2 separate regions of the Homo sapiens genome follow, and region 2 is linked to region 1. A link means that fine-mapping ties the variant in region 1 to the expression of a gene that starts in the linked region. Tissue or cell type: skeletal muscle. Region 1 holds a variant in brackets; the other region holds the start of a gene. All regions are shown on one strand. Distances are between the middles of the regions.

Region 1 (8,111 bases):
ACCAAAGAGGTGAAACACTTGTTCAGTGAAAACTGCAAAATATTGCTGAAAAATAATTTTTAAAACCCCCAAAATCGGAAAGACATCCCATCCCATGGTCACAATTGGAAGACTCAATATCGTTAAGATATCAGGGGGATTAAGATGGCGGATAGGAGGCAGGACTAGCTTGCAGCCCCCACCTGGACAGAGAGAGCAGTGTGTGCAGACTAACATCATTAACTTTTGCTCCAAGAACTACCACAGGAACATACCAGAAAAGCCGAGATAATCCACAGACCCTTTTAAGGACAGGATCACCGCTGCAGGCTCCCTGAGATGCCAAAAACCTGTAAATCTGCTTGCTTTCTCAGCGGGCAGGCTGGTGGTCTGGGGCAAGTTCTCAGCCCTGGTCACCAGCTGCCTGGAAATAAACTCAGTGCTGTTGAGGGGGCACAGTAGGAGTGAGACTGGACTTTAGGACTGTGAGCTGCATGGGAGTGGGATGAGGACTGTGACTGCCGGCTTTCCCCCACTTCCCTGGCAACCTGTATGACTCGGCAGAGACAGCCATAATCCCCCTGGGAGCATAACTCCATTGGATTAGGAAACTCACCCCCATTCTCCACAGCAGCTGCAGGAAGCCCAGCCCCACAGCAGCTGCAGGAAGCCCAGCCCAAAGAGAGGCTGAGTTCAGACATGCCTATCCCTGCCCCCACCTGGTGGTCTTTCTATACCTGCCCTGGTAGCCAAAGACAAAAGTCATAATCTCTTGGGAGCTCTTTGACCCTGCCCACCACCTGAGAAACCTGAATGCTTAACCAGGTATCCCTAGGGCAAGTTTGCCTCCTCCCTATAGGACCACAACTGATGCACTCTTGAAATGCCTACCTCCTGGCTGGAGGCCAACCTACACAAAACCAGTGCACTGAACAAAAACACAAGCAAGGACCCTCACAGAGTCCACTTCACTCCCCTGCTACCTCCAGTGGAGCAGGTGCTGGTATCCATGGCTGCAAGACCTGAAGATGGATCACATCACAGGACTCTTTGCAGACACTCCCCAGTACCAGCCTGGAGCCCAGGAGCTCTGCTGGGTGGCTAGACCCAGAAGAGCAAAACAATCACTACAGTTCAGCTCTCAGGAAGCCACATCCCTAGGGGAAGGGGGTTAGCACTACATCAATGGAGCACCCCGTGGGACAAAAGAATCTGAATAGCACCCCTTGAATCCTAGCTCTTCCCTCTGACATAGTCTACCCAAATGAAAAGGAACCAGAAAAACAATTCTGGTAATATAACAAAACGAGATTCTTTAAACCGCCCCCTCCAACCCAAAAGATCATATCAGCTCACCAGCAATGGACCCAAACCAAGACAAAATCTCTGAATTGCCAGAAAAAGAAATCAGAAGGTTGATTATTAAGCTAATCTAGGAGGCACCAGAGAAACGTAAAGTCCAACCTAAAGAAATAAAAAATATGATACAGAATATGAAAGGAAAATTATTCAGTGAAGTAGGTGGCATAAATAAAACACAATCACAACTTCTGGAAATCAAGGACACACTTAGAGAAATGCAAAATGCACTGGAAAGTCTCAGCAATAGAATGGAACAAGCAGAAGAAAAACTTCAGAGCTCAAAGACAAGGCTTTTGAATTAACCCAATCCATCAAAGATGAAGAGAAAAGAATTTTTTAAAAAGAATGAAACCTTAAAGAAGTTTGGGACTATCTTAAATATCCAAAATTAAGAATAATTGGTGTTCCCAAAGAAGAAGAGAAATATAAAAGTTTGAAAAACATATTTGAGGGAATAATTGAGGAAAACTTCCCCAGCCTTGCTAGAGATCTAGACATCCAAATACAAGAAGTTCAAAGAACACCTGAGAAATTAATCACAAAAAGATCATCACCTAGGCACACCTAGGCACATCAGGTTATCTAAAGTCAAGACAAAGGAAAGAATCTTAAGGGCTGTGAGGCAAAAGCATCACATAACCTATAAAGGAAAACCTATCAGATTAACAGATTTCTCAGCAGAAACCATTCAAGCTAGAAAAGATTGGGGTCCTGTTTTTAGCCTCCTTAAACAAAACAACTATCAGCCAAGAATTCTGTATCCAGCGAAACTAAGCTTCATAAATGAAGGAAAGATAGTCTTTTCCAGACAAACAAATGCTGAGCAAATTCACCAATACCAGGCCAGCACTACAAGAACTGCTAAAAGGAGCTCTAAATCTTGAAAGAATTCCTCGAAATACACCAAAATAGAACCTCCTTAAAGCATAAATCTCACAGGACCTATAAAACAAAAACAATGAAAAAAAACACCAAAATTGGAAAGATATCCCATCCCATCCCATCCCATGTTCACAATTGGAAGACTCAATATCATTAAGATATCAGAGGGGATTAAGATGGCAGATAGGAGGCAGGACTAGCTGAAAAAAAAAAAAACCACCAAGGTATTCAGGCAATGACTAACATGATGAATAGAATAGTACCTCACATCTCAATACTAACATTGAGGCTCATGCCTGTAATCCCAGAACTTTGGGAGGCCGAGGCAGGCAGATCACCTGAAGTCAAGAGTTCAAGATCAGCCTGGCCAACATGGTGAAACCCCCGTCTCTAATAAAAATACAAAAAAAATTAGCCTGGTATGGTGGCACGTGCCTGTAGTCCCAGCTACTTGGGAGGCTGAGGCACGAGAATTGTTTGAACCCGGGTGGCAGAGGTTGGCAGTGAGCCAAGATTACACCACTGCACTCCAACCTGGGCAACAGAGCAAGACTCCATCTCAATAAAAAAAAAGTAATACTAACATTGAATATAAACAGCCTAAATGCTTCACTTTAAAAATACAGATTGGCAGAATGGGTAAGAATTCACCAACCAAGTTTCTACTGTCTTCAGGAGACTCACCTAACACATAAGAACTCATATAAACTTAAGGTAAAGGGGACACCAAAAGCGAGCAGGAGTAGCTATTCTTACATCAGACAAAACAAACTTTAAAGCAATGGCAGTTTAAAAAGACAAAGAGGGGCATTATATAATGATAAAAGGACTATTCCAACAGGAAAATATCACAGTTCTAAATAT[A/G]TATGCACCTAACGCTGGAGCTCCCGAATTTATAAAACAATTACCACTAGACCTAAGAAATGAAATTGATGACAACACAATAATAGTGGGGGACTTCAATACTCCACTGACAGCACTAGACAGGTTATCAAGACATAAAGTAAACAAAGAAACTATGGATTTAAAATATACCCTAGAACAAATTGACTTAACAGATATTTACAGAACATTCTATCCAACAACTGCAAAATATACATTCTATTCATCAGCACATGGAACATTCTCCAAGATAGACCATATGATAGGCCACAAAACAAGTCTCAGTAAATTTAAGAAAATCAAAATTATATCAAATACTCAGACCACGGTGGAATAAAATTTGATATCAACTCCAGAAGGAAGCCTCAAAACCATGCAAATACATGGAAATTAAGTAACCTGCTCCTGAATGATCACTGGGTCAACAATAAAATCAAGATGGAAATTTAAAAAATTCTTTGAACTGAATGATAATAGTGACACAACGTATCAAAACTCTGGGATACAGCAAAAGCGGTGCTAAAAGTGTAGTTTATAGCATTAAACGCCTTCATCAAAAAGTCTGAAAGCACAAATAGACAATCTAAGGTCATATCTCATGGAACTGGAGAAACAAGAACAATCCAAACTCAAACCCAGCGGAAGAAAAGAAATAACAAAGATCAGAGCAGAACTAAATGAAATTGAAACAAAAAAATACAAAAGATAAATGAAACAAAAAGATGGTTCTTTGAAAAGATGAACAAAATTGATGGACCATTAGCGAGATTAACCAAGAAAAGAAGATTGAAGATCCACATAAACTGGATTAGAAATGAAACAGGAGATATTACAACTGATACCACAGAAATACAGAAGATTATTCGAGGCTACTGTGAACACCTGGATGCTCATAAACTAGAAAACCTAGAGGAGATGGATAAACTCCTGGAAATATACAATCTTCCTAGATTAATCCAGGAAGATATAGAATCTCTGAACAGACCAATAACAAGCAACAAGATTGAAATGGTAATTTAAAAATTGCCAACAACAAAAAGTCCAGGACCAGATGGATTTACAGCTGAATTCTATCAGACATTCAAATAAGTATTGATACCAATCTTATTGACAACTATTCTAAAAGATAGAGAAATAGGGAATCCTCCCTAAATCATTCTATGAAGCCAGTATCACCCTAACACCAAAACCAGGGGAGGATGTGACAAAAAAAGGAAACTACAGACCAATATACCTGACGAATAAAGATGCAAAAATGCACAACAAAATACTAGTGAGCCGAGTCCAACAGCATATCAAAAAGATAACCCGCCATCATCAAGTGGGTTTCATACCAGGGATGCAGGGATGATTTAACATATGTAAGTCAATAAATGTGATACATCACATAAGCAGAATTAAAAACAAAAATCACATGATCATTCCATAGACACAGAAAAGACATTTGACAAAATCCAGCATCCCTTTATGATGAAAACAGTCAGCAAAATTAGCATAGAAGGGACTTATCTTAAGGTAATAAAAGCCATCTATGACAAACCCACAGCCAACATTATACTGAATGGGAAAAAGTTGAAAGAATTGCCCCTGAGAAATGAAGCAAGACAAGGATGCCCACTTTCACCACTTCCATTCAAAATAGTACTGTAAGTCCTAACCAGAGCAGTCAGACAACAGAAAGAAATAAAGGCCATCCAAATCAGTAAAGAGGAAGTCAAACTGTCACTGTTTGCTGATGACATGATTGTATACCTAGAAAACCCTAAAGACTCATCCAAAAAGCTCCTAGAGCTGGTCAATGAATTCAGCAAAGTTTCAGGATACAAAGTTAATGTACACAAATCAGTAGCTCTACTACACACCAACAGCGACCAAGCTGAGAATCAAGCAAGAAGTCAACCCCTTTCCCAATAGTTGCAAAAAGAAAAGAAAATACTTAGGAATATGCCTAACCAAGGAGGTGAAAGATCTCTACAAGGAAAACTAAAAAACTCTGCTGAAAGAAATCATGGACGACGCAAACAAATGGAAACACATCCCATGGATGAGTAGAATCAATATTGTGAAAATGACTATACTGCCAAAAGCAATATACAAATTCAATGCAGTTCCCATCAAAATACCATCATTCTTCACAGAACTAGAAGAAGCAATCCTAAAATTCATATGGAACCAAAAAAGAGCCTGCATACCTGAAGCAAGACTAAGCAAAGGAACAAATCGAGAGGTATCACATTACCCAACTTCAAACTATATTATAAGGCCATAGTCACCAAAACAGCATAGTACTGGTATAAAAATAGGCACATAGCCCAATGGAACATAATACAGAACCCAGAAACAAAGCTAAATACTTACAGCCAACTGATCTTCGACAAAGCAAACAAAAACATGAAGTGGGGAAAGGACACTCTATTCAACAAATGGTACTGGGATAACTGGCAAGCCACATGTAGGAGAATGAAACTGGATCATCCTCTCTTACTTTATAGAAAAATCAACCCAAGATGGATCAAAGACTCAAATATAAGACCTGAAACCATACCAGAAGATAACATCAGCAAAACCCTTCTAGACATTCGCTTAGACAAAGACTTCATGACCAAGAACCCAAAAGCAAATGCAACAAAAACGAAGATAAATAGATGGGACTCGATTAAACTAAAAAGTTTCTGCACAGCAAAATAAATAATCAACAGAGTTAACAGACAGCCCACAGAATGGGAGAAAATCTTCACAATCTACATATCCAACAAAGGACTAATATCCAGAATCTACAAAGAACTCAAACAAATCAGCAAAAACAAAACAAATCAAAAATTCCAATTAAAAAATAGTCTAAGGACATGGATAGCCAATTCTCAAAAGAAGATATACAAATGGTCAACATGCATATGGGAAAATGCTCAACTAATTATCAGGGAAATGCAAATCAAAACCACAATGCCACACCACCTCCCTCCTGCAAGAATGGCCATAATCAAAAAAATAAAAAAATAATAGATGTTGGTGTGGATGTGGTGAAAAGGGAACACTTTTATACTGTTCGTGGGAAGGTAAACTAGTACAAGCACTATGGAAAACAATGTGGAGATTCCTTAAAGAACTAAAAGTAGATCTACCATTTAATCCAGCAATCCCACTACTAGGTATCCACCCAGAAGAAAATAAGTCATTGTACGAAAAACATACTTGCACATGCCTGTAATCCCAACACTTTTGGGAGGCCATGGCAGGAGGATTACCTGAGGTTAGGAGCTCGAGACCAGCCTGGCCAACATGGTGAAACCCCATCTCTACTAATAATACAAAAATTCACCGTGTATGGTGGTGTGTGCCTGTAATCCCAGCTATTCAGGAGGCTGAGGCAAAAGAATCTCTTGAACCTGGGATGCAGGGAAGTGGAGGTTGCAGTGAGCCAACATTGCGCCACTGCACTCCACCCTGGGCAAAAGAGCGAGACTCTGTCTCAAAAAAAAAAAAAAAAGATATTAATGCTTCCCAAAGCAACCTATACATTCAATGCCATCCCTATAAATATCCCAAGTATTTTTTTTTGCGGAAATAGAAAAACCCATTCTAAAATTTTTATATGGTATCTCAAGAAACCCTGAATAGTCAAGACAATCTTGAAAAAGAAGAACAAAGTTGGAGGTCTCATATTTCCTGATTTAAAAACTTACTACAAAGCTATAATAATAAAAATAATGTGGTATTGGAACAAAGACAGACATATAGACCAGTGGAATAAAATAGAGTCCCCAGAAATAAGTCCTAGAATATATGATCAAAAGATTTTCTAGAAAAGTGCCAGGATCATTCAATGGGGGAAAGGAAAGTTTCTTCAACAAATGGTATTGGAAATTTGGATATCTACATATGAAAGAACAAAGTTAGACACTTACCTTACAAAAGTTAGAAGAAAACACAGGGGAAAAGCTACATGACATTGGATTGGTAATGATTTATTGGCTATGACACCAAAAACACAGGCAACAAAACAAAAAATTAATAAATCAGACTTTATTAAAATTAAAAACGTTTGTGCCTCAAATGTCATTATCAACAGAATGAAAACACAAACCAGTGAATGGAAGAAAATATTTGCAAATCACATGTCTGATAAGAAGTTAATATCCAGAATATGTAAAGAAACCTGAAATTCAACAACAACAAAAGACAACCCAATTTAAAACTAGGCAAAGGATTTGAATAGATATTTCTCCAAAGAAGTTATACAGATGGTCAGTGAACCATGAAAATATACTCAACACCAGTAATTATTAGAAAATTGTAAATTGAAATGATATGAAGGTACCATTTCATATACATTAGGATGGCTATTTAAAAAAAAAAAAGAAAATAACAAGTGTTGGTAATGATGTGAAAAAATTGAAATCCTTGTGCATTGCTGGTGGGAATGTAGAATGGTGTATCCACTATGGAAACCAGCATGGTGTTTCCTCAAAAAGTTAAACATAGAATTACCATATGATTCAGCAATTCCACTTCTGGATATATCTCCAAAATAATTAAAAGCATGGACTAATAAGATATTTGTACACCAATATTTATAGAAGCATTGTATGATTTCACTTATATGAGGGATCTAGAGGATTCACATTTATAGAGACAGAAAATTGGTGGTGGTTGTCAGAAGATGGGGAAAGGGAGAACTGGGTAGTTCGCGTTTTAATGGCTACAGAATTTCAGTTTGGGAAGATGAGACATTTCTGGAGATGGATGGTGATGATTGTTGAACAATAATATAAATGTATTTAATACCACTGAAGTATACACTTAAAATGACAAGAATGGCAAATCTTGTTATGTACATTTTTACCAGAATAAAAACATTCAGTAACGAGATACGAGCTGAGCTGAAATAGACCAGTAAAAGGGTGATAGGAATCAAAATTTGTGAAACAGCATAAGAGATAGAGTTGGAGACTAGGGGAAGAGTTTGGATTTTTATTTAGGCAAATCAGAATCAACTAGCAGTTTTC
Region 2 (8,111 bases), 310 kb before region 1:
AAGAACATACACAAATAACAAAAGGGCTCATTAGAATATAGCTGAATAATCCTAAGGGGTCTTTACAGAGAATTGTCAACTTCTATATATTGAATCAAGTATCTGATTAATACAAACTCTAAGTTGGTGGCATCTTTTCTAAAAAGAGGTAAACCTATAGTACAATATACTCATCAATCTTTATGTATTCTGCCATTTTTGAAAGTTAATTTAATAACCTGAGTTTTCTAAGTCCCAGTGGGACAAGAAGCACTAAAAGGCAAAAAGTTTGTGCTATCAGAAAATTATTTTGTATATAATCATTTCATAATACCTCCACTTACATATTTATTTTTTAAATAAGTATGAGTTCTGCAACACATGGCATAGAAGATCAGCACACAACAACTACTTGCATTCATATATACTAGCAATGAGTGCATGGAAACTGAAATTAAAAATACAATAACATTTGCAATTGCTCCAAAGAAAAAGAAATATGTAGATACGAGTCTAACAAAATATGTATAGAAGTCATATGCTGAAAACTACAAAACACTGGTGAATGAAATCAAAGAAGACCTAAATAAATGGAGAGATACTGTGTTCATGGATTGGAATGCTCAACAAATTAAATTTGTCAATTGTCCCCAAATTGATCAATAGGTTTAATGCAATTTCTAGCTAAATTCCAGTAAGATATTTTGTAGACATAGACAAGTTTATTCTAAAGTTTATGTGGAAAGGTACAAGACCTAGAGTAGCTAAAACAACCCTAAAAAAGAGGAATAAAGTGGGAGGACCCACTCTACTTGAAATTCAGGCCTACCATATGTCTACAGTAATCGAGACTGCGTGGTACTGGTGGAGGCATAGACACATAGATCAATGGGATCAAATAGAGAAGCCAGAAATAGATTCACACAATATGACCAACCAATGTTTGATCAAGGTGTAAAAGCAATTCAATGAAAGAAAGATAGCTTTTTCAACAAATGATACTGGAGCAATTGGACAAAAATATATAGGCAAAATATGAACATCAACCTAAACCTTATACCTTTTATAAAAATTAACTCAAAATAGATCATAATTAAATGTAAAACTTTATAACACTTTTAAAACAAAAATATAGAAGAAAATATTCAGGATCTAGAGCTAGGTAAAGGGTTCTTAAACTTAATGCCAAAACATGACCTATATGACAGAAATTTGATACATTGGACATAAAACATTAAAAAATTTTGTTTTGTGGAAGTTCAAGGGAAGAGGATGAAAAGAAAAGCTACAGACTGGGATAAAATATTTGTGATAAGATATACAGGTGTCAAATAAACAATGAAAAGATGGTAGATATCATTAGGTTTTAGGGAAATGCAAGTTAAAACCACAATGAGATATCACTATATACCTACCAGAATGGCTAAAATAAAAAATAATGACAACAAAAAATGCTGGCAAGAATGCAGATAAACTGGATCTCTCACACATTTCTGGTGGGAATATAAAATAGTACAGTTGCTCTAAAAACAGTATGACAGTCCTTACAAAACTAAACATGCATTTACCATACAACCCAGGAACTACATTGTTGGGTATTTATCCCAGAGAAATGAACACTTACGCTTATTCAAATACCTGTAGACAAATGTTCATAGCAGTTGTAACCGAAATCTAGACTCAACCCTCCAATAGATGAATGGTTTAAACAAATTGTGATATATCCCTACCATGGAATACCACTCAGCAATGAAAAGGAACAAACTATTGATACCAGGAACAACTTGAATGGGTCTCCAGAGAATTATATCAGGGTTGGGGGAGAAGAGAGAAGAGACTATCTCAAAAGGTTGCATACCGTATGATTCCACGTAACATTCTTAAATGACAAAATTATAGAGATGTAGGACAATTTAGTTTAGTAGTTGACAGGGAGTAGGGAGAGGAGGAAGGGAAAAGATGGGTGTGACTATTAAAGTGTAATACAGGGTATCCTTGTGGTAATGGCGCTGTTTTATATTTTTACTGTGGTGGTGGTCACATGAATATACACATGCGATAAAATTGCATAGAATTATATACACAGGCAAATGAGTGCATATAAAACTGGTGAAATCAGAGTAAGATGAATGGATTGTACCAATGTCAGTGTCCTGTTGTGACATTGTACTATATTTATGAATGATGTTATCATTGGGGAAAACTAGGTGAAGGGTATTTGAGATCTTTCTGAATTATTTCTTACAACTGCATGTAAATCTACCATTATCTTAAAATAAAACTTTTTAAAAAATGAGTATGAGATTATGCTCTCATCCCTATTTAATAAACAGAGAAAATAAAGCATGAAGGTAATCATCACTTAAGTTTCTATAAGACCTGGTAGGATGTCTAGATTAGGACTCACCCAAATGGGAGTTCTCAATTCAGAAATCAAGATTGGAACTAATACAAAATACAAGGATGACTAACATTTACACTAATGAAAAACCTGTCAGAGAATTCCAGCAGCCCCATATACAGTTGCCTGCAACTGCATAAGAGATCTTAAGCAAGTTCAATAGAATCAACTCAATAGAACCAATTGAGAATAATTGCTTGCTTTAAGCCACTAGGTTTTCGGATGGTTTGTTATGCAGTAATTAGGATTCTACACCAAGCAAGGGAGTGAGTGGTTGTAGCCAAATAGATGAACTTTTAAATCCCAGTGAGTCTATTTATTTTAAATGCTAGAATTTATGTTTGTCTCAGACTATCCCTTGAAACTCATTTTCCAGAATACTCTGTAAGCATGTTGGAAGTAATGATGGGAGTTGGGTAATGCACGCACAAGAGAAATTGAACAACCAGTCCTTGCCCTTGAAGAACTCACAATCTAGTAAGACAAAACATCACTGCATTAAACGGCATGAGAACAGTTATAAGGCAACAAATCAGCAAGTTCAAACCGATATACAACAGCACAAATTGAATGCATGTGGCAGTGTATGGCTACCCAGGCAGCAGGACGGAGCTAGACATTTTGGGCCCTGAAGGCAACATTACAGAAAGGGCCCCCTTTCCTTTGTTAACAGTGAAATAAACATCACCAGCAATGCAGGGGCTAGCTGGATACTATTAACACTTCTGAAAAAGCAAAAGGAGGTAACGTTCAGGGACAATTATTCTTGTTTTAATTTTTCTTTGTTTTCTGTTCCTGATAAGTGGTTTGTTTGTTTGTTTGTTTGTTTTTTTGACAAGCCACAGTTTCTCTGAACATCAATTTCCTCATCTACAGACTGGAGATAACAACCAGAGAGTAGTGGGTTGAAAGTCAGGGAATCTGGATTGGAATCTCAAATTTGTCATTTACTAGCTGTGTGACCTTAGATACATCATCCTCTTCCCCCAATTCAGTTTCCTCTTCTGTGAAATGATGAAGTTAAGCTGAATGGTTCAGAAGTTCCCCACCAACTCTAACACTTGAGACCTCAGGTAGTTCGGTTGGTTTTGAGGGTTTAAAAAGTAATGTTGATGTATGTGAAAACACTCCGTAAGCCATAAAGTACTATACAGATGTTAGGAATATAGATATTTATCTAGTTCATCTAGAAAAAAGCTCTGCGGTTCTTCTCCAAATTTAGGGGCTTAAAATTTTGTCTGTCGAGGCAGCACTTTCCTGGACCCTAGAAGTTTCTGACAATTCTTTGCAACTATCACTTGTTGAATAAACACAAATTTGGAGTAGGCAGGCCCACCAAGGCATCAGCAGTGCTACTGTGATTTCCAGGTTGAGCTCTTGGCCCAACTTAGAAGCTTAGGGACTCATTTAAAAAAAAAATGGTGGGTATAGTGTGTGGCACCAAGTTTTCTTCAAGACACTTAACAGTTAGAACAGGCCCTTTCCATGAGGCTTGGGAGCCCAGTTTGTAAGAGAAAGTGGATTTCTAATCCCTGACCCTACACACACCCATCTCCACCCCGCCTTTAAGGACACCAAACCAAAGCTTTGTCACTCTGTTAGCCACAGTGTGGATATGGGAAACGCCGTGAAATGATAAGCAGCATGCTAGGGCGTGATTTGCGAGGAGGGTTCATTCTGTGTCCAGGGCACCAGCTCAGTACCAGACCAGGTGCACACCTCGGAAAGGCCTTGGTGCCGGAGGAGAGCGGGTGTGGGCTTCCAGGCAGGGGAGTCAGAGGGTAGTCGGTATCTTCAGGGCGTGCGCGAGTGGTGGGGAGCTCCTAGGTGCATCCAGTGCAGAGGGGGAGGAGGGACCGGAGGAGCTGTGCGGTCCCTTTAAGACCCCAACGCTCGCCTAGCCAAAGGAGTGGGGGCTGCAGTGGGGGCGCTGTGTGATGGGAAAGTAGCCGGCTGAGTCTCACACTTTCTCCCGATTTTTAAACTTTCGGGCCGGGGGAGCAGAAATAAAGCCATTGTGCCGGGGTGGAGAAAGTGTGCGTGCTTGCAGCGGCTGCGTGCTTGCGGACTTCCCGCCAGCGCCGAGCGGCCGGCTTCTCGGGCCAAGTGGGGAGCGAGCGGGAGGGCGGGCAGGTGGCCCCGGGCCGCCGCGCCCGCGCCTTGGCTCTGCCCCCGGGAGCCGAGCAAGCCGCTGCTCCCTCGTGGTGTGAGGGCGGTGATGTTTTTCCTCCCACCCACTTTTGAGTTCCCCCTCCCCCCTCGCGCGCACTCTAGCTCTCGCCACAACCTGCCAGCCCCAGACCTCGGACGAGAGCGCCCCGGGGAGCTCGGAGCGCGTGCACGCGTGGCAGACGGAGAAGGCCAGTGCCCAGGTTAGTGAGCAGTGCCCGGCGCCCGCTTCCCTCACCTCCTTTTCCAGCCTTTGCACAGGTGGGTTGCCTTCTCTTGGCCGGAGCCGTCCCTGGAAGTTTCCCCAGGGTGCCCCAAATTCCCCTGCCACCCCAACCTGTTCTGTGCTCCAGCAGTTAGCAACCTGGATGGAGGTGGGGCCCAAGGCTTCTGACCAAAGCAAGTTGGGGGTCTCTGAATTCGAACTCACAGCTCGTCCCTCCCCACTCGGCCTGCATTTCTTTATGCTCTGGCGCTTTGAGAGGTCACTTAGGTACTCCACCCTGAGCTACCCAAGGGACTCTGCAGTCCCCTTAATCACTGCCTGTATTCCTGAGCCTGTTTTCTCATTTTGCTGATGAATACATGGTAAAGTTAATGTAGCAGGGTAGATGGGCGAAAGGCTCCCTATCCTATCCTCTGGCCATCTGCCTCATTTTTTGTCCCTGACTACGGGGGTCAGAATTTGAGACACTAGGCTCTGGAAGCAACGTGGTATATTGCCAGAACATAGGGCCCGGAAAGCCTGCTTTCCAGTCCCTCCCAGCCCTGCCACTAAAGTTATTTGAGTTCTCTGGGTCCCCCCAGTGCCCATTTTGAAGGTGGAGTTGTGTGGAATGAAATGAAATGATAGAAAGGTGTTTTGCAAGCCAAATGCGAGGCATTGTTTGTCAGTCATAAGCAGCAATGAAAGCATTTCCTCCAACAAGAGATACCCTGGGTTAAAACTGCCATTTTCAGTGGCAACACACCACCAGTTAACTGAACTTTTCTTGCTGGGTGGTAGAGTGGGGAGAGGATTTCAGCTGATGGACAAGGGCCTGGGACTCCAGTGTCTTTCTTATTGTTTGTCGGAAAGAAAATTGCTACCCTAGGGGCTGTCCCACAGATGATAGTCAATGTGAGATTACAAGGTCAGTCAAGCCTCTCAGGAGGATTAAAGAGACACTGTGGGGCGTGAAGAACTGGCTGACATGTGTTCATCCCTTAGCCTTCCTGTGGGGATGTCTCTTTGCTTCTGTTCTACCCAGGAGACCTGTTCTGAAAGTGGGCTCCTGACACTTGATGGCCCAGATTGCCTTGCAGTCACAGCTGGGCAAGGAGCAGTTGGTCCCTTTGCTTAACGCAGATGAACAATGTGAATGCTTGTTTCATGGAAGCACCTTAATAAATACCTTTCTTTTGGTACTTGATACATTTCTCTTTCTCTTGTAAAACACAGGAACTCTCCCATCCCACCTCCACTACCTGTGTTAGTTGCAGGGTTTTGTTTTTTTGTTGTTGTTGTTGCTTTCTTGTTGGGTCCTGGATCCCCTGAAGCATGTCAATGGCTACATGTCTAAGTAACCTGTAAAAGAGCCAGTGCAAGTTCAATGGCACAACAGCCTGTGTGAAGCAGACAGAGAGTTAATGCAGAAATAACTCCAGTTAACTGGGTCAAAGTATAATTTGAAAAATTAAGGACAGTTTGGCTCTTTGCAAGAATAAGAGTCGGCTAAGTTCGCTGAGCAATGCTTGCTAGTGTTTACTGCTGCAGTCCCAACACATGTTTTGAACCACCCCCTTCCCTAAAAGAAAAAGCTGAAGAGATAAAGAGAAATTGAACAGTGAGGAGATCTGGGGAGGGAACTCTTCTTGGTTCATATTTCTGCACAGAATACAAAGGCAGGACTTCAGGATCTTGTAAATCAAAAGTGAATATTTATAAAGCGATTCATTTTCTGATGTTCTCCATCACAGCCTGGGAGGCCACACAGATGACAGGAACGCCAAAGGAGATTAATTGCTCTCTAGTTACCAACTTTTTTATTTGCTCATAATATTAGTTGGGACCTAAGAAAGGCAAAAAAATCTATGAGCTGTTTTCTTGCCAACTTGAGTTATGAAGCAATGCTACAGTTCACCGAATCGCCCAACCATTATACAAGAAAAGCAGCCCTGTTGATTCTCGCATGGGGAGACCCTAAAACCATGGTTTCAGAAACACCCGTTGAAATCCATATATGAATGTGATAAATTGGATTTCAGTGGTTAAAAATCTTTCTCTTTTGGAGGCTTGGGGAATAAACTTATTAGAATAGGCTCAGGAAGAACCTCACTGAGGTGGGTAGCTGTGTTAAATTGTTAATGAAAATGATTTGTTTCGAATAAACGTGGTAGCCCTCAAGGGACAGTAACATTCTGAGTGATTGTAAGTGGGCCACAAACTCACAGAGGGGACCAAGACATCAGAACTCAGGTCTTTAGATGGGTAGGAACATGTCCTGAGAGAATTTGGTTCTTTAAGGAGCAGGGAGGAGGTAAAGAAGGAAGGCAGACGGTGCTGCAAATCTTGTTTGATAGCACAGATTACTCTATCATCAGTTCTTCCTTGGTTATGCATTCATAATTGAAACAGTGGATTTTGAATGACCCAGGCAACTTCATAGCATTTAAGTAGGAGCTGTAGCATCTACTTCAGAGCCCAAAGATATTCAACTCTCCAAAATGATCGTTTTGCATTCCTTCAAGTTCTTTATGTGCAATATTTAGGTTGGACTTTCTGGAAAGATCAATGAGTTCATTTCCCATTCAGATTGAATCTGGTGTTTTTAGAACATTTCAATATTTTCAGATCACCCATTGGAGGAATTTTGCAAACTCTAACATCTGTGGAAATGATCCGTGACTAGATGTGAGCTACAGCAAACTTTCTGTGTTCCAAGGTTCAAAAGGTTTAAGATTTCTACCCCTTATACTGGGAATGCCAATCTCATGTTTTGAAGAACTGTAGTTGTTTTAATGGTCTTTTGCATGGTGGTGCAAGGTGAACAAATTATCTATTTAATTTGCCCAATTTCCCCTAAAAATGGCCCATTTAAAATTTCCATTTTACAATGGACTTCTTGGGGGAGGAATATGTTGGAACCATTTTAAGCAGTAAAACTTTTCAGGTGTTTAATTGCATCCATTTGCTAATTACATCTATCTTTTGCAATATTAGTTGCCAAACCAAAGATCCTTGTAGATCTCATAGAGGACACAGGAGAAACTGATCAATTTGTACTTCATTCCAAAAGGATTAAAAGTAGTCTTGAAGCTAAGATTAGTTAACTTTCATTTCAGAAATTGCTTGGTCTCATGCTTGTTACTTTTACCTTGTTTGCTAAAATAACCGTTTTTGCAAGCTAAAGTTTCCCTTTTCTCCCAAAAAAATCTCTTGAGAAATCAACTTTAATTCCCTTAGAAAGGAAGATTTCAAAATTTATTTTCATTTTCCTATAACTTGCCTGTAAGGACTTAGCCTCAGCTTTGGATAGGAATGCACCCTCATTCACTTGAATTTTCACCCACAAGCCTTGCA

Alleles and levels. Alleles are on the strand shown, and positions count from the first base shown. SD is a standard deviation of normalised expression in the study named.
For the expression in skeletal muscle of the gene that starts at base 4,679 in region 2, allele G in region 1 goes with a lower level than allele A (small effect, 0.24 SD a copy in GTEx).

Evidence for each region. PIP is the estimated chance that this variant, and not a neighbour inherited with it, causes the effect.
Region 2: it holds the start of CHRDL1, and the variant in region 1 is fine-mapped to the expression of CHRDL1 in skeletal muscle (GTEx, PIP above 0.99).

Annotation. Positions count from the first base shown.
Region 1 is chrX:110,484,514-110,492,624 of GRCh38, reverse strand. No RefSeq gene overlaps it. Among named protein-coding and RNA genes, the nearest start is that of CRIPTO3, 32 kb to the left of the region's middle. The variant A/G (reference allele first, on the strand shown) is at 3,088.
Region 2 is chrX:110,792,385-110,800,495 of GRCh38, reverse strand. CHRDL1 (chordin like 1) reads left to right here and starts at 4,679. Exons shown (of 12, transcript NM_001143981.2): 1 at 4,679-4,752.